Regions from separate parts of the Homo sapiens genome. Here regions 2, 3 and 4 are each linked to region 1. The links come from fine-mapping of genetic effects on gene expression. A gene starts in region 1. Each other region holds a variant in brackets. All regions are shown on one strand. Distances are between the middles of the regions.

Region 1 (8,113 bases):
TATAATTTCTCATCTGGATTCCTCAGTTCATGTGAAGGTGTCTTCATAAAAGGATAGTGGTTCAGGCCGGGCGTGGTGGCTCACGCTTGTAATCCCAGCACTTTGGGAGGCTGAGGCACGTGGATCACCTGAGGCCAGGAGTTCAAGACAAGCTTGGCCAACATGACAAAACCCCGTTTCTACTAAAAGTACAAAAATTGGCCGGCGTGGTAGCGTGTGCCTGTGATTCCAGCTACTCAAGAGGCTGAGGCAGAGTTGCTTGAACCCAGGAGGCGGAGGTTGCAGTGAGCCAAGATTGCGCCATTGCACTCCAGCCTGGGCAACAAGAGCAAGACTCTGTCTCAAAAAAAAAAAAGGATAGTGGTTCAAATAGATGTTTCTGTGAAGGGACAAGTACTGGGAAGTGCTATACTGCCATCTTTCTGACATCACCCTTCTTCCATTCTAGATAGCCTTTTTGAAAGTAATACTATAGTTTCAACATTTTACCATGTTATTAAGTGTTCTCATTCATTTTGAGAAATCTGAAAACCAAGTATATTTAACTAACAAAACAAACACTACATTCCCCCAAGTTACTACTGATAACTATTAACAGCATGAGATATTCATTCTAGTATTTTTTTCTATGGCATTTTTTAAGAAAAAAATTTAACTACATTCTCAAAAGAAATAAAGAGAGGAAAGAACCGAGGAGGAAAAAAAGAAAGGATGGGAAGGAGGAAAAATAAGGCTAACAAGGCATTTGAACTCAATAAGCTTACATTAATAAAAATTATCATGATAGAATATAATGCAACAATAAATGATATACATTGTGGTATAACATTTTGATATTTCTTTCTCATACCTAGAACTATAACCAATTCAGTCTAAAGCACGTGTTGTTTCAGGGGAAAGATAGCTGTGATTGGGTTACAAATGTTTTCATAAAACTCATACCAGGGACAAGTGAAGAAAATCATAATATCTGAGTCTGGTTTATCTTCTTCCCATCCCCGCTTTTTAGAGTAAAAAGGTATTTTGTGCTTCAGAGAGAAAACCCCTTAAAAACTTATTGCATTGAGTCTAGGCCACAAACAACAGATTGAAAATAGAATACATGATACTCAAAGCTGAAATATATAAAAAAAAAAAAGTAAAATCACATCACACGGTAGTGTTGAAACATTCAAGTGTGTAAATACATGTCGACATCCTTTGTTCAGAATGAGGAAATACTTGAAGTGTAAAAACTTATTACTAATCATTGTTTCTCAATTTTGACTTAAGGGCTATTTGTTCAGAATAAAATATATGGAACTAAGGCCAAGAATTTGTATGTTTACCTAATGTGACTTGTGTTTGCCAATGTTTGAGAACCTCAGTGTTTGTCAAGAGGCCTAGGAATTCATAAACATAACAAAAGTAACTGGCTTTACCTTAACCTAATATGCCAACTCCCAAAATTATGCCAAACTTGCTTTACTTGTCATCATAGCACTTAATACCCCCCAACATTATATATTTTTGTTTCATTTTTGACACATAACAATTTTACTTATTTATGGGATATGGTGATATTTTAATGTTATTTAGCAAAACCATCACCTCATGTATTTACCATTTCTTTGTAGTGAGAACAACCAAAATCTTTTCTAGCCATTTTGAAACAATGTTGTTAACCACAGTCATCCTACTGTGCAATAGACCGCCAGAATTTATTCCTCCTAACTGTAACTTTGTACCCACTGATTAATCTCTTCTCAGCCTCTGATAACCACCATTTTATTTCCCACTTCTATGAGATCAACTTCTTTGGATTCTACACCTGCATGAGATCATGTGATATTTGTCTTTCTGTGCCTGGCTTATTTCACTTAATGTTCTCCAGGTCCATCTATGTTGCCACAAATGACAGGATTTCATTCCTTTTAATGGCTGAATAGTATTCCATTGTATGTATATACCACATTTTCTTTATCCGCTCATCCACTGATGGACACTTAGGTTGATTCCATATCTCGGCTCTTATGAACAGTGCTGCAATAAACATGAGAGTGCAGATATCTCTGCAACATACTGATTTTACTTCCTTCAGATATATACCCAGGCGTGGGATTGTGGGATCATATGGCAGTTTTGTTTTTAATTTTTTGAGGAACCTCTATACTGTTTTCTATAATGGCTAGAGTAATTCAAATTCTTTTGTTTATTTATTATTTTTTTGAGACGGAGTCTCGCTGTGTCACCCAGGCTGGAGTGCAGTGGTGTGATCTCGGCTCACTGCAGCCTCTGCCTCCCAGGTTTAGCTGGGACTACAGGCATGTGCTGCCATGCCTGGCTAATTTTTTTGTATTTTTAGTAGATAAGGGGTTTCAGCATGTGGGCCAGGATGGTCTTGACCTCCTGACCTCGGGATCCGCCCACCTCAGCCTCCCAAAGTGCTGGGATTACAGGCGTGAGCCACTGCATCTGGCCAGTAATTTACATTCTTACCAACAGTGTATAAGTATTTCTCTCCACATATGCATGGGCATGTTATTTTTTGTCTTTTTGATAATAGCCATTCTAACAGGTATGAGGTGATATCTCATTGTGGTTTTGATTTGCATTTCCCCTATGATTATTTTTATTTATTTTTAATTTTTTAAAAATGTATGTATTTGTTTTTGAGAGTCTTGCTCTGTCACCCTGGCTGGAATGCAGTGGTGTGATCATGGCTCACTGCAGCCTCAAGCTCCTGGGCTCCAGTGATCCTCCCACCTCAGGCTCCTGAGTAGCTAGGACTATAGGTGTATGCCACATTGCCCAGCCAATTGTGATTTTTTGTAGAGACAGGGTTCTGCCATGTTGCCCATGGCTGGTCTTGAACTTCTGGGCTCAAGCAATCCACCTGCTTGGCCTCCCAAGGTGTGGGATTACAGGTGTGAGTCACTGTGCCTGGCTGAGCATTTTTTCATATATTTGTTAGTCATCATCATGTTTTCTTTTGAGAAATGTCCATTCAGGCCTTTTGCTCATTTTTAAATTGGATTTTTTTTTTTTTTTTTTTGGCTATTGAGTTGACTTCTTCATATACTCTGGATATTAACCCTTTGTCAGATATATAGTTTGCAAATATTTTCTCCCATTCTGCAGGCTGTCTTTTCACTCCGTTGATTATACATATTATGTATTTACTTATCTTTCATTGTCCACCTACCCCACTATATAGAGTTTAACTTGGATATTTTCCCAAAGTGTTAAAAAGAAAGATGGAAAATGGGAGCCAGAAATAGAAAGCCCACTGAGTACTACAGTTATCACTGAGAAAGAAGAATGAAAGTTATTACTGAAAAATAAAACTGAAGAAACCTCTCAGATGGGCCTGGTGCCTGGGTCCATGGGGACAAAAGTGGAACATCAGTCTAGCAGTCTAGTCTGGTGCTGGGGAAGACCTAAAGCCTGATTCTTCAGAGGCCATCATGGAGGCTGGGTTTGTGGGTGGTAGCCTGTAGGCTAGGCCCTCTGGGGTAGTTCTGGTGCCAGGGTCTACTGGGGTAGACCTGGACCTTGGGTTTGTTGGAGCAGGCCTGGAACCTGGGTTCACTGGAACCTGGGGCTGTAGGGACCAGCAGTCAGTGGACCTAAAGCCTATATCCACTGGTGCCAACCTGGAGACTGGGGCTGTAGGGCCCAACCTGGTGTTGGAGCCTGGTGCCTGAAACTATGGGGACCAACATGGGGAATGGAGTGGGCATAGATCTAGGCGCCATGGAGATTAGCCTAGCATTGGGGTGATCTTGGAGTCTCAGTGAAATGGCTCAGTGATCTTGGAGTCTCATTTTATAACAAACTAGAATTAAATACAGTACTTCTAATAATGACTTCTTCCAATTAGTCCAAACTGGGCTCCCACTTATTCCCTATCATACACATCTCCGTATCGTAAAACTATCCTCCCTGTTCGGCGCGTTGGCACATTCTGTTCCTCCGACTAGAATATTCCCTGTACTTATTCAAATCATACCTATGACCACTGCAGAACTCCAGGAACATGACCATCCCATCTAAACCCCTGCGTTCAGAGACTTGACCAAACTCTAGCAAGCTTTAGCAGCATAAGGCCCTGTGCCCAGGGCGACTGCCTCAGAAAGCTTAACTACGTGATGTAACCAGCACACAACTGATGATAGGTCTCTGACATCCCTTTCTTAGAACGTTTACTAAAGGGCTTGCAATTGTAAAGACTTATTTCTTGCCACTCAGAAGTTCTCTCTCAAGGACCAGAGAGTCATTCCTTTGAAATGTAATCGAGAAGGATAAAATCCTCCGTAGGAGGATAGAATCCTGCGGTAACTGTTAAAACGCGCGCACACACAAACACACAGCTGGCCTAATCACATTTACACTAACAACTCTGTAGGTTCACTTTCTCTACTGAGCGCCCGCATATCCCCTTTCTCCTTTTAAAACGTCCCTTTAAAAATGCCCAGATGATCTCTGCACGAATCGAAATAGAGCTCAGCTCTTTCCTGTCAGTAGTTAACTGAATGTTTTCACCGCTTTAACGTCCAGCTGCGCTTATCTTTGACATCGACTACCTAAGGTCTACCTTTAGTCCCACGACTCTGACAAAATGATCTCAATATTGGTGTAAAATCACCTCCCCTTTCAAGGGTCTTCCAAAGCACTTCCTGTCTGCGGCATACAAAATGTATTGGCACGGAATTTTAAGCTTACTGAGCTTTATAAACACGTCACATTCACACATTCAAGACACACACTGGATATTCGGATAAAAACAAACAAACAAAAAACTGGCTAAATACCCATTCCCCTCAATAACTTGGATAAGATACCTAAAAAAGGTCGACCTTCGGTACCTTTCTGTCTTCTCCCCTCTCGCTATTTGCCTACACTGGCTTCCTCACCTCCACTTTTTCTCACGTTTATCTGAGCGAAAACAAGCACGGTTCGGCAGCCTCCTTTCCCAGCCCTACCTTTGTGCTGCAAAAGCGAAAATTCAAAAGCCAAGTACAATAGGAGACCGCCCACCCTGGCTCCCTCGTGACACGAGGGAGCGCGAAGCGGAGGGCGCCTCGCGGCAGGAGCGGGATTTCCGGGGTCACGGGAACCGGCAGGGGAACGGGATAAAGTTCCCGGAGAAAGGAAAGGAGAGCGTGGGATAGTAAAAGAGAAGACGCGGAGAAGAGGAGAGGACCTACAAGAACGGAGGACAGGGGCGCACGATGGTCCCGGGGGGAGCGGAAACAAAGGCACGCAAAACGGAAAAGCGTGTGTAGGGGAGCGGAAAAGGAAGTCACCACCGTGGCCTGCGACGGTAAGTGGTCGTAAGGGTTGGTCTTAGCGCTTCAGTTTAGTGTTGTCAGTGGGAGAATCCTAAAATGTCGCCGTGGAATGGACTGTACCGCTCGCTTCTCCAAACGTGTCCCAGACGGCGAGCCTCCCCGGCTCCGCGGCTTGTCCCTTGCAAGCGCCGCGCAGGCCTGCCCCGCGCTGGACGTGGAGACGCGGTGCCGAGCGCCACGGGCCGGCTGTGCGCCGGCCGGGGAAAGAGGGCGAGGGGAAGAGATGAATCGGTCTTCCCAGAGCGCGCCGCGAGGTCGCGAGATTACACTTTAAAAAGCATGAGGAGGCTTGCTTTCTACATGCTGATTTAATTTCGGAATACATTCGAGGCCCTGTGCTAAGTTAGGTAATGTTCCCTATAATTGTCTTTTATGTATAAGTTGTCTTGCCTAACTAAAACTTTTCTTACTTGTATCGTGCAGCCAACTTTTCAAGAACGAAAGATGAGCAACTCCTTTCTGGTAGAGGTTCTTTCATTGGAGAATTTTTGAGCTACAATAATCCTTTTAACGCTGCGCACACATACAGGGATTACACGTGTAGGGGATTAAAAACACAGTTAAGTTTAGGTTGAAGGTGCTGTTAAGGACTTCAGGCAACATTAAATCAACACTCAGTTCTTTGCTCTGTTCCACATCTGGGCTCCTGTATAGCAGTTGTTGCTCTAGGTGCTAGAGGTATGCAGAGGAACTGGACAAGGGCAAGGAAAACAAAGGGCTCCTTCTTTAGAAGAGCTAGCATTCTCTTGGAACAGACAAGCTTGTGGTGAGAAGTATATTTGTGAAATCTACGAGGGGAGGGAGCAGCGCAGTAATAGAACGGGCGATCCTTTCTTGATTTTTTATTGGGTTCTGGCCTGAAAGGCGACTGTATAATCAGCTGGGATTCCTGCAATGATTAACATTCCAGGAAGGGAAGCCAGCCTGTGAAGAAGCATGGCATTGAAACAGGGTGAGTTGTGAGGATTATAAACAGGGTAGTTGGAGAGTTGATTTGTGGCCAGATTCTTAAGCCCCTGTTTAGTCTTAAGAATATTATCTTTAGGCACTGCAAATGCCCTCTTGCAGCTAAGACTAATGGGAAGAACTGGTTAAAAAACTAATTACAGCAAAGAGTGAGTGAGAGTGGTGATGAGAGATACAGATGTTCTGAGAGCAGACAATAAGGGGACTTTATGTAGTCCTATGTTAGAGGAGATGATTTGAAGTTACTCTGAGGAAGACAAAAATGTAACAGGTAGATCGCATATGCGAAAGCTTGAGATGGCGAAAAAATCAAAAGGATTTCAGGAACTGAAAGTTGTGCATTTTGGCTGTGTGAGGGAGAGAGTTGTGGGTGGCATGTAATGAACCTTGAAAGGTAGTTTATGTTATGACAGCCTACAACCGAATCAGAACTTTTACAAACAGGCGATATACAGACAGTCTGAAATCAAATGCTTCTGATTTCTATTACGTGCTCTAGGCTAATTGTTTTCTTTTTAAGTATGAGTTTGCGTTAGTCTTCTGGATTTAGTGATTACAGTATAAGGTGAAACAGGTAAAGGCTTTTAGAGAACATCTCACTTATTTCCTGTGCACTAAAGGGAAACAGATCACCTTTGCAGAACTTGAAAAAAATGGGAAGTGCGACCTTTGATCTCAGATGGACTTTCTTTCCTCTTTTCAGTGGCTTGGTAGTGAGCTTGTTCAGCTCCACTGAATCTTCTTTGTGGTGGGGCTGCAAGACATCCTGCATGGCAAGTTTTAAACATAAGTTTTACCCCGAAGAAAGCTTATAAAATTGTAAATGCTTCAGAACCTTTTCATCTTCCTGTGATTCTGGAAGAAATCCAAAAAAAACCAATCGTTTAACTACATACTTCTACAGAACCTGAATCTTAAGCTTTGTTCACTTTATACTATTAGATACTATAGTAGGTTAATAATGACTAACACCTTGTCATCTCATCACTGAGCTTTTGTCTAAGATAGTCTCTGAATTTAGAACTGGGACGAAAGTGTACATAATAGGCTATTATAAAATTTTTAGAATTGGATTTCTAAACTTGGGGTCAGTGAATCTAGCAGGCTTAAGCAGTGTTCTCAGGTTTTTCTGGCACAGACAAGGAATATAAGAGGAGGAGAGAAAAGGAGAGACAGTAGTGGGAGGGAATAGAATGAGAGAAGATAGAAAATATGGAATTAATAGAGAAAGGATACATGAAGTATTACAAGATTTTCTTGGAAAAATTGGCATTTCAGTGATGGATCAAAGATGTCTAATGAGGCAAAATACTACTATTACTTAAATATTTAATGTTTTAAAGATTTGAGGATAAAAGGATATAGATCTGATGGCGTTCATACTAATTGCTGTAGTGTTGATGTTGGAGAGAGGGGTAATGTATCAAGACAGAGCAGACAGACCCTTTACAATGAGAGCAGAAGATATGTTGTTTACTGATTCTACTTTCCCACAAAATGCTAATGCTTTTATAAGTCCCTCCTCCTTATTTTCTAGATTAACTCCTTGTTTCTTCCTCTAAACAGAGGATTATGGCAGACAGGCAAAAAAAAAAAAAACTTTTAAAGCAACTATCTAAGTCCTTACCAAGTTTCTTTAGCACTTTTATTCTAAAGTTATCAAGGTGGAAATTGGGGCCTCTGCCCCACATGTATCTGCTTCATTGGGTTGTATCTTCATACCTGATTAACGGCATATTCTAGGCAAAAGCAAGACCCTAGGCATGCTATGTTTGGCTCTGAATATGTAGGCCTCCCAGGTTTATTAGCTGAAC
Region 2 (8,113 bases), 100 kb after region 1:
TTTAAAACTTTATATATATGTGTGTGTACATATATGTGTGTATATATGTATATATGTATATACATGAACAAAAGACTGAAAACTGGCCACCACCCTTGTACTATTATTTATTTATATATATATACACACAAACACACACATATATGTATTTCTGTTTTCCTCTTAGTGTTTTTGTATGTAATAAGGTTTTGTATTACCTTATTATACAAGAATGGTTAAATGGATTTTCACTGAATATGTAGAGTTTAGAAGTTGCTCTGGAAGAAGTGCTTTCTTTCACTCTAGCACTCTCATCTTGCATCTATACTATGTTACTGTTGCTGCTGATTCTCTTGAAGTTTACTCTGCTGGCCAGATTCTCCCCTGCTCACCAGTAGTGAAACCTCATCTTGATCTTGGGCAACAAAAACTTTCTCCTGCAGTGCAAATGACTATTTTTTGTTTTGTTTTTTGATGGGGAGGGCAGTGTCGTTTTTTTTTTTCTTTTTTGGAGTGTGGGGAGCAGCATGTACCAGTTATCCACCACTCACTCAGAGGTACCTTTTCTCGACATGGGAGGATTCCACAAACACTGTCATGGATATTGGAAGCTCCAAAAAGTAGCTTATCCTTCTTCATGGTTGTTGTTGTTGCTACTTGCACAGTAAACAGAGGTACTCAGCAGCCACCGTGGTCAGGGGCAGCTTTAGAATAACATCTTGGTTTCAGCACAATGCCTCCAGCCCCAGAGAGTGAAGAAAGACCCCTCCTCCCCCAGATAAAGGCCCACCTCATTTCTTAATCTACTATTAACCACTTCCCAGAATGATTCATCTTGAGAGAATCGTTTCTTTTGTCAAAATGAGGGGTTCTGTACCAAGGTTCAACTGGTAATCATAACATTGCTCTACATGGATGCATTTCCCAAAATCTGTGTTATTCAGTCATGCAGTGGACATCTGTTGTTTATGCCTGCCAAAAATTCATTTCCCTTTCTTTTGAAATGATGCCCTGAACTTATATTGGAAAAGCTACTCCTTCACTATTGGCAGCCATAGAACTGCCGATCAAGATGTCCCCATTTCTCCTAGCCAAGGGATAGACATGTGACCCAAGTGATACCATCAGATGCTTTTCTCTCCTTGAAATTTGGAGCTCATGTGAAATGCAGAAAAAGATGGAGAAAGCAGTTTGTGATGATTAATCCCAGCTGGCCGTGACTGTCCATTAGTTTCTCCTCTCCCCAGAGATACTTTGGCTCATGACTTCTTCAGGACTGATCCTAAGACTGTGTAAAGGTGTCCTATATTCTCCAATCCTCTTATGCATTCCTATGTGCTTGATAGGCCGAGCTGATTTCTGTTTCTTGCACCTAAGGAATCCTAACTGATACAAGTTCTACCCATGATTGCACATTTAGGTAAGCATATTATTTTCCCAAATTTCCTGTTACTAGGTTTCACCTATCTACCAGGATAGAGCTGTAAAATAATTCTACCTTCTTACCAATATCAACTGTCTATCTGGTCTACTTTTCTCATGAGATGCTGCATCTAATAGCAGGGTAGGGAATAGGACAGGATCACACCTGAAATGTGGTTATTGAGGTCAAATGATTGCCATGACTCATTTTCAATTATAATGAGTAGTTTTATATTTGTATTTTATTGCATCAACTTGGAAGCACTCTGATTCTTTGAGAGAAAGAGAAGAGAATATGAATTAAAGAAAGAACCAGTGACATGGTGGTTCTCCTTTCCCCTCTTGTTGCAACCTGGAAGGAATCAATAGGCCAATGCAGTTATAAACAGAGCTAAGGTTTCTGAGTCCGGGGTGAAATATTGAATTTATCTTTGAGAAAGATACTCCTGTGTTTGGGGTTAGACTTCCTAGAAGTGTCTCTTTAAACATACAGGTCTAAGGCAAAAAACTACCCATTATTCTTGGAAAAGCAATTTTCGTATTTATATGTTACATGCCTTACTCTTCCATGTGAGTTTTAGAATTATTTTTAAATTCTACAAAAAATTATGTTGGGATTGTACTGAATTGATAGATTAATTTAGCTTAGAGTTGCCCAATAAAATACAGGATGCCCAGTTAAATTTGAAATACAAGTAAACATATTTTATATACACTCCTGTGCCACATAATGACATTTCAGTCAATGACATATTGCATACACAAGAACAGTCCCATAAGATTATAATACTGTATTTTTACTGCATCTTTTCTATGCTTAGAGACACAAATACATACCATTGTGTTACAATTGCCTGCAATATTTAATACAGTGACATGCTGTGCAGACTTGTAGCTTAGAAGCAAAAAGTTACGCTACATGGCCTACGTGTGTAGTAGGCTATACCATCTAGGTTCATGTATGATGTTCACAAGATGATGTAATCACCTAATGATGCATTTCTCAGCATGTATCCTTGTTGTTGTGTGACACATGACTGTATATCTGTATATTTATATATAACTATCTCCATCTCAATCTATTATCTATCTACGTGTCTATAAGTATCTATGTATATATGTATGTATGTATCTATCTATCTATCTGTCTATTTATCTGCCTGTTTATCCTATGCAATAATTTTTTATTCAACAGTATGCAATAATGTTTGGGACATACTTATATTGAAAAATTATTATTCATGTATTTGAACTCAAAAGTTAACTAGCTTTTCTGTATTTTTATTTGCCAAACATGGCAACTCTAATTTAGGAAGAAATAACAGCTTTCAAATATTGAGTCATCCTTTCCACAAACATGATGTACTCTCTATTTATTTAGGGCTTATATCACTAAATAATTTGGATTGTATATCTTGCTTATTTTTTTAGATTTATTCCGAAGTGACTTAACATTTCTAAAATTATTGTGAATGGGATCTATTGCTATTGCAAAGGAACCCTATTCATTTTTTATAGTGGTCTCATAGCAACTTTATTGTACTTAATTAATTTGTTCATTAGGTCTTTAAAAGTTTTGTATTCACAATAATATAACTTAAAAATAATAAGTTTATATTTCTTCCTTTCTATTCTATATTCATTTTGTCTCTTTTTATTATTTTACTATACAGATTACAACCTTTAGTACAATGCTGAATACAAGTGGTAATGGCAGACATCTTGTCTTATTCTTAACTTAAAAGGAACATTTATAATTTCCTTAAAGATATTATATTTATTAAAAGTTTTAATATATAGTTTTGGTCAGGCTAATACTTTTCTGTTTCTAGTTTGCTAAGAGTTTACAATTATTGTTATCATCATGAATGATTATTGAAACTTATCAAAAATGCTTTCTGTACCTATAGACATCATATCATTTTTCTCTTTTAATTTGTTAATGTGGAAATTACAGTAATAGATTTACCGATACAAAAAAACTTTTGATATGGATGTTTCCAACTTAGTTATGGTATACTCAGATGGAGACATATGGACAAACATTGAAGGGTTCCATTTGCTGATTTTATTTAGAGGCCTATGTGACACCGACTTAAAATTTTCCTTTCTCATAGTATTTATGTCTGATTCTGGGGTAAAGGCTATCTTGGCCTGACAAAATGAGATCACTACAGGGAAATTTCTTCTTGTTATATCCTCTTAAATTGTTTGTATAATTTGGGGTTGATCTTTTATTTCAAACAGTAATTCCAGTACAAAAAGAGAACAACAAATTAGCTGGGTGTGGTGGTGTGCAGCTGTAGTCCCAGCTACTCTGGAGGCTGAGGCAGGAGATTCGCTTGAACCCAGGAGGCGGAGGTTGCAGTGAGCTGAGAGTGCACCACTACACTCCAGTCTGGGTGACAGAGCAAGATTCCTTCTCAAAAATAAATAAATTAATTAATTAAAATAAAATAAAATTAGGTAACGCTCATTTTAAAAATCTGATGGGCCCATTTATTTTGCTTGTTTTGTTAAGTAATTGGTGTATTTTAAACTGTTAATTCACTATCTTCACTATTTAAGCTATTAATTCACCATCTTAATGATCTGGTTTTTAAAAAAGTTTTTTAAAATGGCACATGTTTATGTGCCAGTATGTAATAATTGTACATATTTATGGGTACATAGCAATGTTGTGATACATATAATAAATTGTGACCAGATCAAGGTAATTAGCCTATCCATCATCTTAAACATTTATCATTTCTTTGTGTTGAAAACATTCAATATCCTCCTCCTAGCTATTTGAAACTATATAATATATTATTCTTA[A/G]CTATAGTCATTCTACAGTGCTACAGGACACTAAAACTTATTCTTCTTATCTAGCTGTAATTTTGTTTTTGTCAGGTTTCCATTGGAATCTATTTTGGTAAGTTACATTTCTCTAAGAAATTGTCCATTTTGTCCAAGTTTTCATTTATATTGACGGAGTTATTCTGAATATTCTTATAATATTTTAAATTTTTATTCCATTAGCTCCTGTTTTTCCACCCTAATTTTATTTCTTTGTGACCTTTCCAGTGGTGTGCTGGAGCTGACTTGTTCTGGCTGCCCAGAGCCATGTGTCTATGAATCTCTCCCCAGTTTGCATTCAGTGGCATCATGTTGGTAGATTAAAATCAGCATTTGTGGCAGGATCTACACTATGGAAATCAGAGACCCCTATAAATAGGAACCTATTCCCCACCCTAGAGAGAGAAGGTTTACCAGCACAACTCTACTGCTGTCTACTTCTGTCCTTCCCTTCTTCTTGCTTGTCTTCCTCTCTCTCTCTCTTTCTCATCAAACTTGTTATAGATTTTTCTATTATATTAGTTTTTTCAAAAACAATTTTTGGTTTATTTTATTCTGTGTTTTGTATCTTTGTTTTTAATATTAATTGATAATTGATTTTAGTTTTATTATTCTATTTGCTCTATTTCTAGGATTTACCCTATTATTATTTTTAGTCATTGGGTGGATTATTTATTCATTAATTCTTAGTTTTTCTTATTTTGTAATACATGCATTTTAAGACTACATTTTTCTCTAAAAACTGCCTTAATTACAGTGCACAAGTTTTGCTATATGGGAGTTTAATTGTAATTCATGACTTAATGTTTAATAATAACCACTGTCCATTATGATTTCTTCTTTGACTCATGGCCTGTCCAGAACTTTGCTCTTTTAAATGCCCAGATGTTTTCCACTAAGATGTTGGTTTGCTTGTTTTTTAAGGCTATCTTTTCATTAGTACTTTTGTTTTAGAGCCAAGTAGTTATAAAATGTGGTATATACCTTATCAGTTTTTTGGCATTCGTTGAGACTACTTTGTGGCTTAGAAACTGGTCAGCTTTAAAAAATGTCTCATTTGAGCTCAGAAAGAATCTGCATTCCCTAATTGTTCTCTAAATTATAAATTTTGTTGCTCAAAACTTCTTATCCTTAAAAAATTTACCTGCTTTGACTCTCATATTCTGAGAGAAGTGTGTGAAGATTTTTTCACTGTTTAGACACCTTGTCATACTTCAGTCAGCTTGTTTGCCTTAGAATAACAGGCCTTACTGAAATACCTGGTTGAATACTCCATGGGCTGGGATATTAGATTCATCTTCCTTCTCTATCATTGTTTCACTTCATTTATGGTTCCTAGAGTCTTTCAAGTTAAGAGTTGTATTAAGCCATTTAAAAAATTATTTCTTCCACAATTTTCTATGTTTATAGTCAGAGAGAAGCACCTGTACCAGCTCTGCTGGCTTTATTTGCTCATGCTCTTCTCATGCTTTCCAATTCTGCCATTTCATCTTTTTACTGAGATAAAAATTCCAACTTTTAGCTTTCTTAATTCCTTTCATCTGTATCTTTCTTATTTTTCTTTTTATTTATTTTCTTATTTTCCCTATGCCTTAATGCTCAGCATCTTTCTTATTTTTCATTTGCTATTCATTTTTTCTAATTTCTTAGATGTAAACCCTTATTTCCTTGTTACTTTGTATATAATATTTACTTATTTATTTATTTTTGAGATGGAGTCTTGCTCTGTCACCTGGGGTAAAGTGCAGTGGCACGATCTCGGCTTACTGCAACCTCTGCCTCCCAGGTTCAAGCGATTCTCCTGCCTCAACCTCCTGAGTAGCTGGGATTACAGGCACATGCCACCACACCTGGCTAATTTTTATATTTTTAGTAGAGACGGGATTTTGCCATGTTAGTCAGGCTGGTCTGAAACTCCTGACCTCAAATGATCTGCCCACCTCAGCTGCCCAAAGTGCTGGGATTACAGGCATGAGCCACCACACCCAGCCTTGTATTTAATTTAATAAAGACACTTAAGACTATTGATTTCTCTATAAATAATTTTTTAAGGAGGGGCATATGTTTTGAATATCATTTGCTTAGTGTCACATTATATCTATGTCTATTCTGTACCAATTTTTTCATTCTGTTAAGGTTTTGCTAATGCAAAATCCTGCATTCAAAATTTTTTTTCATATTACAAAGATGCTTGAAAAGGCAGTGTAATTTCTGCAGAATTTAGTCAATACATAGCTATTAAATGAATCTTATTTATAAAATTATTCAGGTACACCCTATACTCATAATGTTTGATCTAATTGACCATTTATGACTTAAGAATGACATGGTGCATTTATTTACTCCTTTTGTACTTCTAAAAATTTATTATTTAATTTTAACTATTTTTTGCATTATATATTTAATGGTACTTAAATAAACAGTATTTATATAAATGGTAGTTAGATATATTAGTTAAAAAGTAGAATACCATGAAATACTATGCAACCATAAAAAAAGAATGAGATTATGTCCTTTGCTGGAACATGGATGCATCTGTAAGTCATTGTCCTTAGCAAACTAATGCAGGAACAGAAAACCAAATACCACATGTTGTCACTTATAAGAGGGACCTAAATGATGAGAACACATTACACATAGAGGGGAATAACAGACACAGGGGCCAATCAGAGGGTTGGGAGAATGGAGAGGATCAGGAAAAATAGCTAACGGATACTACACTTAGTACCTGGGTGATGAAATAATCTGTACAGCAAACCCCCATGACACAAGTCTACCTATATAACAAACCTGCATATGTACCCCTAAACTTAAAAGTTAGAAAAAAGTGGTGTGGTATGTAAGAGATGCAATGGTATGTAAAGTTACATGACTATTAAGTAGTCATTGGAGCTTTTACTCTTTATCACATACATCACCCTTTTTCTACTTACTTTTTGTTGCTTGAATTATAATAGAATTTATTTATAGAATATGATTCTATAAATAAATAAAAGTTGCGTCCTTTATATTTTCTACATTACCCACTTACATATTCTATTTACATTGCCCATGCTGGTTAAGATGATCAACTCTGGAAACAGAGAAACCATATACACATCTTAAGTCCCGTGATATATTTACAGTGTATATTGGTGTATGTCTTTAATTGTCTATTTTCTCAACCATAAAATGGAGATGGATATAGAATCTACTATACAGTGTTGTATTAAAATTAACATTTTATTATATGTAAAGTACTTTAACACATATATAACCTATATTATATGTGTAATATAATATACATATGTAATATATAGTGTTATATATATTACATATGACATATACTACATATTACAAATATATATTACAGATGCATATTATAATATATGTAATATGCATATATGTTATATATGTATTATGTAGTACAGCAATTGGCAAATAATGAACATTCAATAAATGATAGATCAAAAAGCAGAAGAATTATCCCTTAAAGCAGCATTCAAATACTGATGAGTAGATGTTTAAAAATAGGGAGCTAACCATATTTTAGTTTAATACCATTAAATCTGTGGCCGTCACTACTAGCAGAAATAAGTTAGAAACACATTCTGTAGGGTTTTGAAATGTGGGCAGAATGTAATACTACTAGTAGATAACATTTGTTTTGTGGTAGAGGTTTTAAGGCAACTCAAATTTTTTAAAGTTTTGATTTAATTATGTAAGCATTAGAAAACTATCAGTTTTGAACAGGATAGTATTATGGTGAAGATAGTGATAAATAATAATCTGTTTGGCATTGATGAGCAAGAGATTGAAAATAGGGTCGAGAATGGAAATAGAAAGATTAGATAATCCAGTGATATACGATGACAAAAGATCTGCAAGATGGAAT
Region 3 (8,113 bases), 150 kb before region 1:
ATGCTGCTAGGAATATTACTGTGAAAGTCCTTGGTGGATATATGTTTTTATTTCTCTTGAGTATGTACCTAAGATTGGAATGGCTGGGTCATATGGCAAATTTACATTTAGCCTTTTAAGAAACAGGATTTCTAGTTTTCATTGGTCTGCATGTCAAATCCTTCTGTTTCACACATTGAAGGCCATACATTCGATAGCTTATATTTCTTGTTTGAATTTCACTGATGTTATTTTTAAAAAAAAATTTTCTCAGATTCTGGTTAATGCTTGACTACCATGTTAGTTTTTGATATTACTGTGTTTACGTTTTTGTCTTGGCCTTCAGATATATTTTAATCAGAAGTAAATGATAGCTTTATACTATATTAACTCAGAATTCTGTCAATTTGAGTAACAATATGAACAGGGTAAATTTTCTTTAAAAAATATTACTTTAGGAAATAAGTCTGGTTCATCTTTGATTACTTTCCTTAACTTCATTAATATGTGGAATATTTTATTCCTGTGGCAGTGGTATCTCATGCTCTTGTGTACATGCATTTATTTCCCCCAGCTAGTTTTTTGTATTTTAGTAGAGATGGGGTTTCACCATGTTGTCCAGGCTGGTCTCAAACTCCTGAGCTCAGGCAGTCCACCCGCCTCAGCCTCCCAAAATGGTAGGATTACAGGCGTGAGCCACCATGCCCAGCCGAGAGTGTATGTCTTAATATTCAATTTAACCCAGCGTTGCCATGCCATAATCTAGACCCAACTTTACCCGTTCTTCAAGTGTTTCAAGTGAAACTGGAAATTTGGATTTTTCAAATGTAAATGGTTTACATTTTTAAATTTGGTAACTAATTCCAAAAATTTTAAAGTGTAATTGTGGGCTATCACATTTAACCCAGTCCAGGAATTACCCTCAGAAAAGTGCTTCTATATCCTTTCAGTGCATTTTGGAAATTAATGAATACTCTGACCTTTAAATTTGTATTATGAAATATCTTAAATATGTAATTGTGTAAAGAATAATTTTAAAACACTCATGTAATGCCCACCCCTTAGTGTCCTGCCATCTTGTAATGGCACATTCAAGCATATTTCTTACAAGATTCTAATCCTGATAGAACAATGTTGCTAATTTCACTGCATTAATGAGTTCGAAGCTGGTTGAGATGCAGTGTAGAATAGACTGGACAGCTCATCCTTTCACCTTATAAATGTTGGCCACAGTTTTTTTTCTTTGCCTGAATTATAAACAAAGGCCTTAAGGAACTCTGGTCACCACCCAGACATAATTTTCTAAGTGTCTTTTAATTACTCAATGCAATGATGGTTAGAACCCAATCCATTAACAAGAGTAAATTAGAATACATCTCTGCATTTGTTGTTGTCATCCATAGTTTAATAAACATATCTTTACTGTGGATCTAAGATATAAAATAATTTTTTTTTTTTTTTTGAGATGGAGTCATGCTCTGTCGCCCAGGCTGGAGTGCAGGGGCTTGATCTTGGCTCACTGCAAGCTCCGCCTCCTAGGTTCATGACATTCTCCTGCCTCCGCCTTCCTAGTAGCTGGGACTATAGGTGTCCACCACCATGCCCGGCTACTTTTTTGTATTTTTAGTAGAGACGGGGTCTCACCATGTTAGCCAGGATGGTCTTGATCTCCTGACCTCGTGGTCTGCCCGACTCGGCCTCCCAAAGTGCTGGGATTACAGGTGTGAGCCACCAGGTTCTCAGATTTTTTAAAACTCTAAGCTGAGAAATATCCCAGTCTTAAATCCATTTGCTTGGGTGGAGTTCTCTGAGGCTTTTGCATGGTGCCAACCAAGTATAATACATGATATATTAAAGAAGCACTTACCATGTTGGCTTTGATTTTTTAAAGCAAGGTGGTCTTGCTTTGTGATCAGTTTATTATTGGCAGTTTGACAGACCCTCTAATAACCCATACCCTGCTCCAAAAGAAGGTTCTACAATGATGAAAGAGTTAATTGTATCATAAACTACTTCACTGGTAGCCTTGAGTCCCTTGATGAATCCCAGAGAAGCTTAGAAAATACAGAGGCCAATTCTTCCTAAGGATCCAGGAAATATTTTGATCATATGATATGAACTACATAATGCAAGGCAGCCCATATGGAGTTCTAACCTGACTTTTAAAGGGGATGTTTTCACAAGGATCTTGTAGGCCTCAACTGTTACAGTTTTTTGTCAGTGCTATTTCCTCCAGTTCTGTTGTAACCACATCCCATTAACAAGAGAAGCCTCTATTTTTTTTTCTTCTTTCTGATATCCTATGGTTTTTAAGCTCTCTTATATTTTCTAGAGTTAAGTTCAGCATCTTACTTTCTAAGTTTCTGATGTACCTAAATTTCACTGTACACTTAAATTGGTGCAAAAGTAATTGCAGTTTTGCCATTTTAAGTTTAATGCCACTAATAGTTACAAAGCATGGGTTCCAATTTAAAGACATTTAAGCTTTATTACCAAATAATACACTAGGAAAAGGGCAGATATGTTCTAAAGTAATTCCTGGCACCAAAGAATGGCTTAAAAAGACACTGTACAACTGAAGGGCCATGCAAACCTATTTGGCCCTGTGAAGATAATTCTGATTCCCACACCAAAAAAGACTTAAAAGTTTCCTCTTTTATTGGTAGCCTGGTTCAAGGGTATGCTCTACAAATTGACTCATTAATATTCCTTAACGATAAAGAATTCACATAACTCTGTCGTCAATCTGAGCTCTGCTGTAGGTATCTACTTTATCACATGGGAAAAGAATAGAGGAACTAGGAAAAGGAAAATTTATTGGATTCTTTAATTTAAAAAAATAAAACAAAATAATACCATGATCACAGCTATTTTAGTTTGGCATTGTATCAGTTTTTAGAGCAGAAAAATAGTTTTCTCAGCTTTTAAAATTTGCTTTTATTTAGGCATTCACTGGAGATAGGATGAAATAAGTTTGGCAGCCTCATAACTCAAAAGATAGGAACGGTACCTGGCCTTATGGGATGGAGAAAGGGTTTAGCTGTCTAGCAGAAGAGGGCTGGCTGATTTATTGGCAAATTCAGGTCTCTGCCTTCATGACATAAACATCTGTATGCCAGATATACCTCCTCACCTCTGACATGTGCCTCTATGACCATCTTTAGAAGGGAGTCAAAGTGAAAAATCCAGGACTTTTAAAATTTATTATTACCTTCTGGAAACAATTTCCAGATTTAAATTGCCAATCAACTTTCCTTCCCATATCTTCCAACATTATTTATTAGAATCAATGAATTAATAATGCTTCTTTTCTTCCCTTCTCTATTCTTTTCTAAAGTCTGGCTTTTTAAACTATCACTGTAAGTTTGGAAAATCGAATCCTTAAATTAAAATTGATAATTTTCTGGGTATAGTTCACTTTGTATTTGTGCTTCAACTCTGTAAATTTACATAAGTAGGAAATTTTGGAATATTTAAAGTTATTGTTCTTCTCTTGCCTAGGAAAACTATAGAAACAGAATGATAAACAAAGTTTGCTAAAACTAAGGGTGGGATGAACAAATATAAATCAGAGGCATAGATAAAGGCATTGTGAAGATGTATATATCACTTCTTCCTAAAAATGAAGAATAAAAGCTAAGTTCAAATAGAAGAAACACTTCATATATAATAAGCTTAAATGTTAGGATGAAATTTATTAGCTTTTAACTCCTATATACCTTTGGTGCTAATTGAACACCTGCTATTAGTAAGGGCAGCATCTGCAATTTAGAACTGGAAAAGTGAACTTTAAAAATAATTTATTTAAGCTCAGTTTCATTAAAAAATTTTTCTGGGGGCTGGGCCTGGTGACTCAGGCCTGTAATCCCAGCGCTTTGGGAGGCCGAGGCGAGTGGATCACGAGGTCATGAGATTGAGACCACCCTGGCTAACACGGTGAAACCCTGCCTCTGCTAAAAAAATACAAAAAATTAGCCGGGTGTGGTGGCGGGCGCCTGTAGTCCCAGTTACTAGGGAGGCTGAGGCAGGAGAACATCGTGAACCCAGGAGGCAGAGCTTGCAGTGAGCCGAGATCGGGCCACTGCACTCCAGCCTGGGCGACAGGGTGAGACTCCGTCTTAAAAATAAAAAATTTCTGGAATCAAAATAGTGGCAAAGGCAGGGGAGAAATAAAAACAAGGAAAATACATTAAGCTTTATTTTTCTTGTGTTTGATAACCTTCTCAACTCTTCCTCTTAGCCTTTTACATTCTTTTTTTTTCGCTTTTATGGAATTTGAATACAGGATATTGTTTATAAATCTGAACTAAATTTATTAGCCTAGTGTATTTTTTAATCCCGGGGTGAAGAA[T/C]GTTTGGTAGATGTGTCAGTGGATTTTTGCTGTGTAGCAAACCATCCCAAAACTTTGTGGCTTAAAACAACATTTATGTGGCTCATAATTCTGTGGTCCATTCTGGTCTCAGGTAGGTCCATGCATGTATTTATGGTCAGATAACAGCTAGAAGGCTCTGCATTGAGGATTAACTGGCTGTTCACTAGGGCAATAGGAGCATCTGGGCCACATGACTTTTCATGGAGCAGGCCAGCCCAGACTTAAAACACAGGGTAGCAGATTTCCAAGAGAGAGTGAGCAGAATTGTACAATCTCTCAAGGGTAGACTCAGAACCAGCACGCCATTTCTGCCAACAGATTTTACAGGTCAAAGCAAGTCACAAGGCCAGTTCAGTTAGAAGAGGTACGGAAGTAGAGTCCATCTTTTTTTTTTTTTTTTTTTTTTTTGAGACAGGGTCTTGCTGGAGTCTAGGGTCACCTAGGTTGGAGTATAGTGGTGGGTTTATAGTTTACTGCAGCCTCGAACTCCTGGGCTCAAGCTATCCTCCTGGCTCAGCTTCCTAAGTAGCTAGGACTAGCTGCATGCCACCATGCCTGGCTAACTTTTAAAAAATTTTTGTAGAGATAAAGTCTCACCATATTGCCCAGGCTGGTCTACTCACATATTCCCATTTATAGGCCTACCTCAGAGATATTGCAGGTTCTGTTTTAGACCACAGCAGTAAAGCAAGTCACACTATTGTTTGGTTTCCCAGTACATGTAAAAGTTATGTTTATACTATACTGTAGTCTGTTAAGTGTGCAATAACATGGTATCTAAAAAAAGTATATACCTTAATTTTAAAATACTTTATTGCTAAAACATCCTAAGGATCATCTTAGCCTTCAACAAGTCATCATCTAGTTGGATGGCGGGTCTTCCCTGGATGTTGATGGCTGCTGACTGATCAGGGTGGTGGTTGCCAAAAGTTGGAGTGGCTATGACAATTCCCTAAAATAAGGCAACAATGTGATTTGCCACGTCAGTTGGCTCTTCCTTTTATGAAAGACTGCCCTGTAGCAGGCAATGCTGTTTGACAGCATTTTACCCACAGTAGAATCTCTTAAAATATTGGAATAAATTCTTGCAAAACTTGCCACTGTTTTATGAAGGAAGTTTATGGAATATTCTAAACTTTTTGTTGTCATTTCAGCAAAGTTCATATCATCTTCACAAGGAATACAGTTCATTTCAAGAAATCACTTCCTTTGCTCATCTATAAGAAACAACTCCTCATCCATTAAAGTTGTATCAGGAGCTTTCAGCAAGTCAATCACAATCAGGCTATACTTCTAGTTCTCTTGCTATTGTCACCACATTTATTTCCTCAACTGATGTCTTGAACCCCTCAACTCATCCCTGAGGGTTGGAATCAACTTCTTCCAAACTCCTGTTAATGTTTTGACCGTCTCCAATCAATCATGAATATTCTTTTTTGTGTGTGTTTTTGTTTGTTTGTTTGTTTGTTTGAGATGGAGTCTTGCTCTGTCCCCCAGGCTGGAGTGTAATGGTGCGATCTCAGCTCACTGCAACCTCTGCATCCCGGGTTCTAGCAATTCTTCTGCCTTAGCCTCCCGAGTAGCTGGGACTACAGGCACGCATCACTACACTAGGCTAATTTTTGTATTTTTAGTAGAGACGGAGTTTCACCGTGTTGGCCAGGATTGTCTCAATCTCTTGACCTCATGATCCACCTGCCTAAGGCTCCCAAAGTGCTTGGATTACAGGCGTGAGCCACTGCGCCTGGCCCAATCATGAATATTCTTAATGGCATCTAGAATGCCATTTCTTTCCAGAAGATTTTCAATTTACTTTGTCCAGATTCATCATAAGAATCACTACCTGGCAGCTATAGCCTTATAAAGTACATTTTTAAAATAATAAGACTTGAAAGTTAAAGTTACTCCATGATCTATGGGCTGCAGAATGGATTTTGTGTTAGCAGGCATGAAAAGAACATTAGTCTCCTTGCACATCTCCATCAGAGCTCCTGTTTGACCAAGTGCATTATCAACGAGCAGTAATCTTTTGAAAGGGATCCTTTCTTCTGAGCAGTAGGTCTCAAAAGTGGGCTTAAAATATTTGGTAAACTGTGCTGTAAATTGAGATGCTGTCATAAAGGCTTTGTCCTTTCATTTATAGAACAGAGGCAGAATAGGTTTAGCATAATTCTTAATGACCCTAGGATTTTCAGAATGGTAAATGAGCATTGGTTTCAACTTAAAATTATCAGCTATTTTGGCACCCAACAAGAAAGCCTGTCTTTGAAGCTTTGAAGCTAGGCATTGACTTCTCCTTTTTAGCTATGAAAGTTCTAGATGGCATCTTCTTCCAATAGAAGGCTGTTTTATCTACATTGAAAGTCTATTATTTAGTGTAGCCACCTTCACCAATCATCTTACCTAGATCTTCCCAATAGCATGCTGCAGCTTCTACATCAGCACTTGCTGCTGAACCTTGCCCTTTTGTGCTATGGAGATGGCTTCTTTCCTTAAACCTCATGTACCAATGCCCACTAGCTTCTAACATTTCTTCTGCAGCTTCCTCACCTCTCTTCCTTCACTTTCATAGAATTGAAGAGTAAGGGCCTTGCCCTGGGTTAAGCTTTGGCTTAAGGGGATGTTGTGGGTTGTTTGATCTTTTATCCAGACCACTAAAACTTTTTGCATATCAGCAATAAGGCTGTTTTGCTTTCTTATTATTTGTGTGTTCACTAGAGTGGCACTTTTAATTTATTTCTAGAACTTTTACTTTGCATTCACAACTTGGCTAAGAGGCCTAGGTGTTTGTCACAAGAGGCCTAGCTTTTGGTTTATCTTGGCTTTGGACATGCCTACGTCACCAAGCTTAATTATTTCTAGCTTTTGATTTAAAGTGAGAGACATATGACTCTTCTTTTCACTTGAAAACTTAGAGGCCATTGTAGGGTTATTAATTGGCCTATTTCAATACTGTTGTGTCTCAGGGAATAGGCCTGAGAGGGAGAGAGATGGGAGAACAGCCAGTTGGTGGAGCAGATAGAACACACACCACATTTAAGTTAGCCAATTTATATCAGTGAAGTTAATCGTGCCCCAAAACAATTGAAAGAGTAACATCAAAGATCATTCATCCCAGATTATCATAATGGATATAATAATAATGAGAAAGTCTGAGATAATGGGAGAATTACCAAAATGTAACACAGAGACACAAAATGAGCACATGCTTTTAGAAAAATTGCACGAATAGACCTGCTCAATGCAGAGTTTCCACAAATCTTAAATTTGTAAAAATTGTGGTATCTGTGAAGTACAATACAGTGAAGCTCAATAAATCAAGGTATGCCTGTGCTTTATATCAACTCTAGATTACTTATGATACATAATACAATGTAAATGTTATGTGAATAGTGGTTTTTACTGTATCATTTTTAAGTTTGCATTATTTTTTATTGTTGTACTTAAAAAAAATTCAATCTGTGGTTGGTTGAATCCACAGATGTGAAACCTGTAGATACAGAGGGCCAGCTATATGTGATATGTCCTGTTTTAAATACTTTTCAGCTCATACAATTTTGACTCTTTAGTCTTTTTGTTGAAAAGCCTAAGACATTTTTATTTTTCCAGCTTCTTTCCATTTTATATTCCAGCTTTTTAAAGGTCTACTTTTAAAGTAGACCTTTTCAAATGGGCTTTTGTTTACCTGTTATCATTTATTGACTTTTAGTAACGCTTCCAAAACAAATCTAGGTAAGAAATAAAGCTACAGTGGCTGTTTCC
Region 4 (8,113 bases), 110 kb before region 1:
GGGATTACAGGTGTGAGCAACCACACCCGGCCAGAAACAATGTTAAGACAATTCTGTATTGATGTTTTTGTGCAACTCCCTCCTCCCTTTCCCTCTCTCAAAGAATCTTCTTCCTAGCCTCATAAGCATGGAGGCAGACATGAGCTACCCTTTATTGTGTGCTTGGCGCTATATATATTCCCTCATATTCTTATGGCCTCTTAAAGTAAATATAATTATGTCTTTAAGGAAGAATCAGGGTCTGCAAGATCACACAGATAAGTGGTGGCAGCAGAATTGAAACTTAGATCTCTATGACAAAATTCCATGGTTTGCAATCAGACAAAACAGTTCAAACCCGTTTCCTCCACATGGGTGCATTTCTATGAACTTTTGCATGATGCTTTACCACAATGAGCCTTGCTTGGGTTTTATCAGTAAGATCAGATTATCAGTATCTAGAGACAGAATTGCTCTGAGGGTGAACTCAGATAAAGGTCTGTTCAAAGTACTTAGCACAGAACCTTGCAGAGGGTTGCCCCTCAGTGAATAATCACTATTATTACTATAACTATCACTGTTATTGTTGTTATTGCTGTTGAGATTATGATGTCAGGCTTTCCAGACACAGAGTATGGTTTCATTTGATTGTCCTACATGTATTAAAGTCCTACTGTGAGCAGGTTACTATTACTAAACTTTAGCTCCTCATGAAATGTTTATCTGGAAGCAGGTGAAAATAATGTGAGTGAATATGTATTACTTTAAAGACCACACCAGGGAAGCTCTTCAGACTTGAAGATAAGACCTTATTGTTTAAACTTGTGTATTTGCTAAGTTAGGCAAAAAATTGCTCTAGAGACTTTTTTGACTAAATTAAACCAAATATCATCAGATGCATGTGTGTACAAAGCCACAATAAACCTGAAAATGTCGCTGGGGAGGCAAGATCTCCTAGCATTTCAGAACAGGCTGATTTGATCATGATTTAGAGAGCTTTTCCATACACTTAGGCTGCTTTCTCTTCCTATGGCTGCAGCACACTTTAGTGGAAAATAAGCCCATAGGTATCTCATTTTTGGGGTGTGTGTGTGTGTGTGTTTTGTCCTCCCACAATAAGAAATCTCATCCTTTCCCATGGGCTCTGATTTTCTCTAACGTAAAGACATCGCTACTACTGTAGATAAAAGCAACACACTGTCAGAATCACAGAGAGCTAAGAGGTTGGACTTTATGTTCCATTTCTATTTTATTTGAAGATAGAAGTTTGATAACTTTCACAGATCTTTTGAGAGTGCATAATATATATAATTATGCTACACATATTGTTCTGCCACATCCAGATGCAAACTTCTAAAGGTGCAGCAGAGTACATCCTGCCACCAGCTGAGAAGGAGAAAGAATTATGGAAGGAGGGAGATAATTCTTGCCTATAAAAAAATGAGTTTACTTTCCTAATAAAATAAATCTAAAATTGGCCATTGTCATTGTATGATGTTAACAACCAGCTCTTTTGGCAAGTTTGAAAATACTGGGCTCCATTATAAAAGCTAAAAATGTCCTGGACCTGGAGTTGTTTACCCAGAGCATGAGCTGCTCTAAAGTTACAGAGCTCTGGTTGGAAGAGGTGGCTTGAAGGCCGCCTCCAAGTAACTGACGTCACAGTAGTCTCAGCTGCTGCTGTGACACTAAGCTGAGCAGCTTTTTGACTTGTAAAAGTGGTGAAGGTTTCAAAGGGACTTGTCAGTACTGCTCTGTGGAATGGTTGGACTTATTTTGCATCCCCTTTTCTTGTAAAGAATCGAGATTCACCGAGCTGAGACTTTTCTCTTTAAGACAGCTAGCCATCCACTTTCTTCCACTGCTAATTGACCAGTGGTCGAGCATCCATAGGATTTCTCCCCAGTGTGAAAGGTATGTTTCTTTCCGGCAAGTTTACAAGCAAGTGACTAATTATGGCAGGATACAAAGGGGCTGCTGTTGAGATGTTTTAAACTATGGATACTGTTTAAGTGGAGTGTAATTTCAACATCTGTCTCTGCTGTTGTCTGTGTCTGGGCTTAAAAACAGTGGGCGGGGTGCATAACAGATTGTACTGACTCCTAGGAAAAAGGCTGTTCAGCTGCTCAGGGTGGATTTCCCAACTGTGGACTGACAGTACCATCCGCTCTTTGAGACTGTTTTTCCAACACTGCTTCTCAGTTGTTTGAAAAGCACTTTGCCCATCATTGATTTTCACTAAGTATATTTATTCAAATGTGATTTTTTTTATTCATATAAAGACTTTTAACATTTGCAAATTAAAGGTCACAATCCTGGAGACTTGGTATTTGAAAATTGCGGTGAAAAATAAATTTTAGTTTTATCTAAGGTGGTGGTGGACTCACTGTAGAGTTAGTGTTTCTGTAATTTGAGCTGAAGTCTATGCCATTCATAATTGAATAATCTACGTTTAGGAGGGAAACTTACCACTATGTCTTTTGTTCACGATGGTTAGTTTTAGACATTTGTTTACTCAAACCAAATGTTTGCTTTTAAAGTTTGCATTTTATAAGTAAAATCAGTGTGCATACAGCTTGGATGTTTTCTAATTTGAGTAAATAACTGTAAAGAAAACAAGGAAGAAGATAATTAAATGAAACGGTAAAGTTGATTCATTCGGAATTGCATGTGGTAGTGTCTCTTTGACCTTGTTGGAGCATGAGGAATGTGCTAAATCAGCAATACACAGCAATGAAAAAAATTTCCCTTTTACTCTAACAAAATCAAATCATGGTGGTCTTTGGAAAGATTCAATTGCAAGTGAACAATAGAGAGGAATGAGATTTATTAATTCATTGAAATAATTCAAGTGATTATAATAGCCTGGAGAAAGGGATAGAGAATTTAGGAGGTAAATGGTACATTACTCTGATAGGTTATAAGCTGGGGAATTCCTAATCCATCAAAGTTAAGCAGAAGCAAAACATCTTCAGGCCAAATGAGTCTTCTAGGAATTGTGAGATTAGCAGTACCTACTGTGTGTGGCATTTCTATTGGAATATGTAACCTCTTATAAATGAAAAATCTTTAATTATGTGAAAAGTGATATGTTTAGCAAAAGGAAATAAGGACAGCAAGAAACAAGTACTCTAAACAATAATCTAAAAAGAGAGAAGTAGCAATGGAGCAGCTGCCCCTAAGGAACGCTGTTTAGTTTGTTTGGATGCAGTCCAGTTTTCAATGGGCGAGTTGGAGGTTGAAAGGGTAGTGACCCAGGTGTCCTAAGAATGGAGCACCCCTCAGAGAAAGAATTGCTGCCATGACCAAACTGAGGCTAATTTGGGGGTGAAAATAATTTCTTGTGAGACTTGTGTGTTACTCTTAAACTTTGCTTACTGGTAGGGCC[G/A]GAAGGCTAGCAGAACTATTTGCCTCCCATCACCATACTTATGCAACCCACTCACAACTCTTTATAATTCTGGCTTTCAGCCCTGGAAAGGGGAAGTAAGTTAAAAGGGATTATGCAATGCTGGTTTAGAGTTGGGGTGTGTGACTAAGTAATGCAGCTCACTCTGTCCTCTTACATTTGCTCTAATAAATTTTTATTCTGAAATGGAATTCTAGAAGGAAGAACATAAACTGGAGAGCCAAAGAGATATGGGGTAGGGGATGCAGATAGCAGAAATCCTTCCTTCTCTCCCACATAGATGCCAGTATCTGTGGGAGAAAATGAGTGACAACTAGGAACAAAAAGAACTTTTATTTTTGCCCCAGTAGAGAGCACTTAAATTGAGTTTTTGAATCTGCTGAACCACTTTACCCCATAACTTCTCATTACGAAACATTCTATCTCTACAAAGTTGCCCCTTCAGTTTGATATTTTTTGTAATATTTAAGTCAGATTTATAACAAAAGCAGTTTTACATAAGATTTGTTCACATTTTTATTAACAATAAAACTTTTTTCTTTAAATATGTGACATGTATCTTTAAAATATTTGAAAAAAGGCAAAAGAAGATCATGGAGAATATGAGAGTTCACACAATTACACTTGCTTCTATCTCGTTTTAAAATAAAGACCAAAATAATCTGTTTTTTTTCCAGAGAACAACATGGAGAGGGATAGATGGAGAAAGAGAGGAGAAAGGGAAGGAGGGAGGAAAGACAAGAAGAGGAAGGGAGGGAACAAAGGACAGAAGGAAGAAAACAAGAACCAAGTATTTTTCAGGCATTTGCTATGATCCAGAGCAGTGTTTAGGCACTTCTTTTAAGCATTTTTCCCTTTTGCTCACTTAATCTCCAAAACAATTCTATGCCCCCCCCCCACCACTTTATATTTAGAGGTGGAAGCAATATGTTTGGCTGCGTTACATCTAACATTATATTTACGACAAGACTGAGATGCTAAGAAGGCCAAATCCTTCCACAAAAAATTGGCACAGATATTGCTCTATAGAAATGTTCTTGCAAAGGCTTGTTTCTGATCCATAACTATTACATTTCTTGGCACTAGCAATTGCTCTGGGCCTGGAAAGGAAAAGCTCCATACATTGGTCCTTCTCCATATTAAGGGATGAGTTTGGCTCTTTGCAAATAGGTGCAGGATTCGGTCTGCTTCAGGACTGTTACCTGGGTTTAGATATAGTCTTGTTATCAAGAGCAAGACTGATCTAGGGTATTCCTGAATGATCTTCCGGTAGGTTAAAAAGAGAAAGGCCTGGCATCTTTCAACAGTAGCATGGAAGCGATTCAAGAAGAGTTAGGAATAGAAGGAAAAATTGGAGCCATTTGCTACATAATTGTAGAAAAGACTTTATGGTGATTTCTGAACATTTCCAATGTTTAAAGACAGTTGGGATAAAACATGGATTTATCATAGCTCCTCTTTTCCAGGTAGCTTGAAATTAGTCTGCATCCTTTTTTAGTTTCTTTGGTTAAATCTGCATTTATCTCTTATTATCTCAAACCACACCATTCTTCCTAAGAAGTTCCAGTGGCAAATACTTTCTAGTCAGCAAGGTAGTTTCACCACACAGTTAATTACGTATAGTTTTAAAGCAGTCTGCTAGTTTCAAGACAGGCACTGTCTGCATTTCCTATGAAGAATTGTTAGACGAACCTAAAAGATTACTAGGTATTCAAGATCAAGATCAATGGAAATTAGATTAGCCAAAACAAACAAAAACCAAAACTCTGTATGTTCTTTACCATCTTTATTTTATTTGTTCTTCACTGACATTTATTATGGCAAGTACTTGTGGTTACTGGTTTATATGTGGGAAAGATAGCAAAGAAAGGGGTGACAGAGGAGGTGGAGAAATGAGGTCAGAAATTGAGCATGGCCAAATGGATAAAATGAGATATGATAGCACCTTTAATAGCCAGATATGAAATTATGTATTTTTCGTGACTGAATTAATCATAATAGTGCTAGTGCCAAAGACATAGGAAAAAATTATCAAAATATCTTTAGTAAATAGTTTGAGAGTAAAGTAACAATATAGATCCCAAAATTATTAGGGTGTTTTGAAGGTAGAACCCTGCATATATAGCTAACATTTTTCATTTCTTATTCTATTCTAATTCATTGATCGTGACTCAAAAAATACAGATTCAAAACTGTTTACTAGTCAGATATGTATGTTCACAACAGTCTGACAAAAATAAAATTAGTGTTCGATATTTAGCTGATATTTAGGATTTGAAATATGCAGTTATCTTCTGTGAATACAAAATTGGCACTTGCTGCTTGGGTATGTGGCCTTAATTCGGCAGTGCCAGCACCCACAAAGCTATTGACTGTTGGGATCTTTGTCCGTAATTAGCATTAGCTGCCACCAGTAAGTTATAGCATTTTGATAATGGCTTAGTGACTGAAGAGTTAGACATCTTATAGGCATAATTATCTTAAACAGAGATTCAAACATTTTAAACATGCTTTTCTACCCCCTAAAAAGGCACATGACTTATTTAATACAAAATTATTTTTAATTGAAGTCACAATGAAATTTTGTAAAGCAAAAAATAGAAAACTTTCTTAAATTTCTCAAACTACTTTGCATTCAGTATGCCATTTAATCTTTTTAACAGTTCTATGACTATCCCCATTTTAATGCAAAAAACTAAATCCCAGAAATTTTAGACTTATACCAGTTACATAGCTGGTATTTTAAATTCTGACTTCAAACCTTAAGTACACGTCCCTGAAGGCTAGAAAGTTAATTATTTCAGTCACTACTTAATGTAATAGAGGATTCCCTGAAAACTGAGCAAAATGTTTTCTTCAGTTCCCTGTATTCAATATCCTAAGCAGTTTATGGTATATAGCCTATTCAAAGGAAAAGAGAGCATGGATAAATTTTAACGTATATTTCACAGGATAGTTTTGATGCTTCTAGATTTTCCTTGATGAAGTGACATAATGAATATATTTTTTATAATTTAGATTAGTTTCTGGATGATACATCAGTCCTAAGTTGACTACCAACTTTGGGGTCTTCATAAGTAACACAGTAATGACATTTGGCACAGGCTTGATCTCTGAATATAGAATTAAGACTGCAAACCAGCTCTGTTTCAGGAATTTAAGTCATAAGAATATATAATCAGGTTGCATCAGAACAGAAAGAATAATTTTATTGCAGCAGAATCTGTCACAGTGTGTAGATGTGAGCATACATTTGAATTGTATACTTACACTCTTATTCATGAAAAAATCTATTTTTAGAGTAAGTGGTTAAAGGGATGATTACATCTCACATGCGCATTTAATCATCTTGTCCACTATAATTTTGCTGTCTGGTCTCAGAAAGGGAAAAAAACTTTGGACAATACTTATTACTTTATTGACTGTGTTAGTTTCTTCTTCTTAAGTAGACTGTTGTCATCTCTTTTCTTTTGAGTCCAATTTTCCTATAGTTTGTTTATGTCAATGGCTCGACAAAATGATAAAATATATTTCCAGAAAGCACATGGATTTGGAACTCTCTCTTGTTATGTTTATATTAGGCTTTATTTTAAAGGCAAGTGAGACTGCTTCAAATAAAACAACTTCAAGCTTCCAAGAAACAGTTAAGAGGAGGCAGAGAAGAGCAGAAACACTTCTTTGCTGACACTTACACTGTTGCCATGGACCTACATAAGCAGTGGGAGAACACAGAGACTAACTGGCATAAGGAAAAGATGGAATTACTGGACCAGTTTGACAATGAAAGAAAGGAATGGGAAAGTCAATGGAAGATTATGCAGAAGAAAATAGAAGAGGTACACTTTAATTTGTTTTGGATATACTGTAATGTTTAAGTGCAGGATGAAAATTCTGTGGGCTGTTTTGTATTGGAAACTGTTTTTGATTTCCTTATTCGACCTAAGAGGTACATTTCTCAGTGACATTTACTAGAACAAAAATAGCATAATCTTATCCAATGGTATTGTAAGGATTATTTTATATCATTGCATGAAAATTAAGCATTTGAAATGTCACTCTATAATGTTTCAACTTATTATTTTCTGGCTAGAGAGCTTTTTTATCAAAAGTGAGGTATGTATTTTGCATGAATTTTCAAATACCAGGTCCAGGAGTAAAATGCAAGAAAGATATACTTGGTGGGACATAGATTAGCAAAATTATAGTTGGGCATTAGAACATAGATCTTTCCTAAGAAGATTTATGAGTAATGTCTATTAAAGGAAATTACATGTTAGATAATGCAGTATAATCAAAAGGAGTATCATATATCAAACAGAAAATGGCAGTAGACATGAGATTTATTCTATCAAGGTGTGCACATTTAGTGGCATATTTATTGGAAAAGGAGTTATGAAAAATGACATATCACGACTCTGACACAGTCATTTTGTTCCCGTTAACCCTCCCTCAGTCCGTTGACCCTGAAATATTTCCTTCAAGCATTTGCATTGATGTATATTCAAGCTTTTGCACCAATTGGAAATAATTTATGCTTATCTTGCTTTCTTTTGGTAACATCCTTAGTATTGACTTTATATGGTTTTATGCACATTACCAAAGTTGTTATTTTAAGACTTCTTGGCCTTTTTTGCAGGCAAAGTAAGTGCTTTATGTGTTTATAGTACAGTCATGTTTCTTATTAACAGCCATGTAATTGACTGTGAATAAAATATGAATTGGCATAGT

What was found.
Region 2: its variant is fine-mapped to the expression of ECHDC1 in whole blood (TOPMed, PIP 0.98).
Region 3: its variant is fine-mapped to the expression of ECHDC1 in whole blood (INTERVAL, PIP above 0.99).
Region 4: its variant is fine-mapped to the expression of ECHDC1 in whole blood (TOPMed, PIP 0.92).

What each region holds. Positions count from the first base shown.
Region 1 is chr6:127,340,528-127,348,640 of GRCh38, reverse strand. It overlaps ECHDC1 (ethylmalonyl-CoA decarboxylase 1), which reads left to right and starts at 5,032. Exons shown (of 6, transcript NM_001002030.2): 1 at 5,032-5,305. LOC105377994 (a long non-coding RNA gene) reads right to left here. Exons shown (of 4, transcript XR_001744334.2): 4 at 6,982-7,154. RefSeq lists enhancers at 3,126-3,999, 4,874-5,747.
Region 2 is chr6:127,240,783-127,248,895 of GRCh38, reverse strand. No RefSeq gene overlaps it. Among named protein-coding and RNA genes, the nearest start is that of RNF146, 22 kb to the left of the region's middle. The variant A/G (reference allele first, on the strand shown) is at 4,219.
Region 3 is chr6:127,488,525-127,496,637 of GRCh38, reverse strand. All of the region lies in intron 4 of MTCL3 (MTCL family member 3), which reads left to right. All of the region lies in intron 4 of SOGA3-KIAA0408 (SOGA3-KIAA0408 readthrough), which reads left to right. Among named protein-coding and RNA genes, the nearest start is that of MTCL3, 27 kb to the left of the region's middle. The variant T/C (reference allele first, on the strand shown) is at 4,331.
Region 4 is chr6:127,452,955-127,461,067 of GRCh38, reverse strand. KIAA0408 reads left to right here and starts at 1,679. Exons shown (of 6, transcript NM_014702.5): 1 at 1,679-1,893; 2 at 6,967-7,221. The coding sequence starts at 7,087. It overlaps SOGA3-KIAA0408 (SOGA3-KIAA0408 readthrough), which reads left to right. Exons shown (of 13, transcript NR_174482.1): 8 at 6,967-7,221. The variant G/A (reference allele first, on the strand shown) is at 3,368.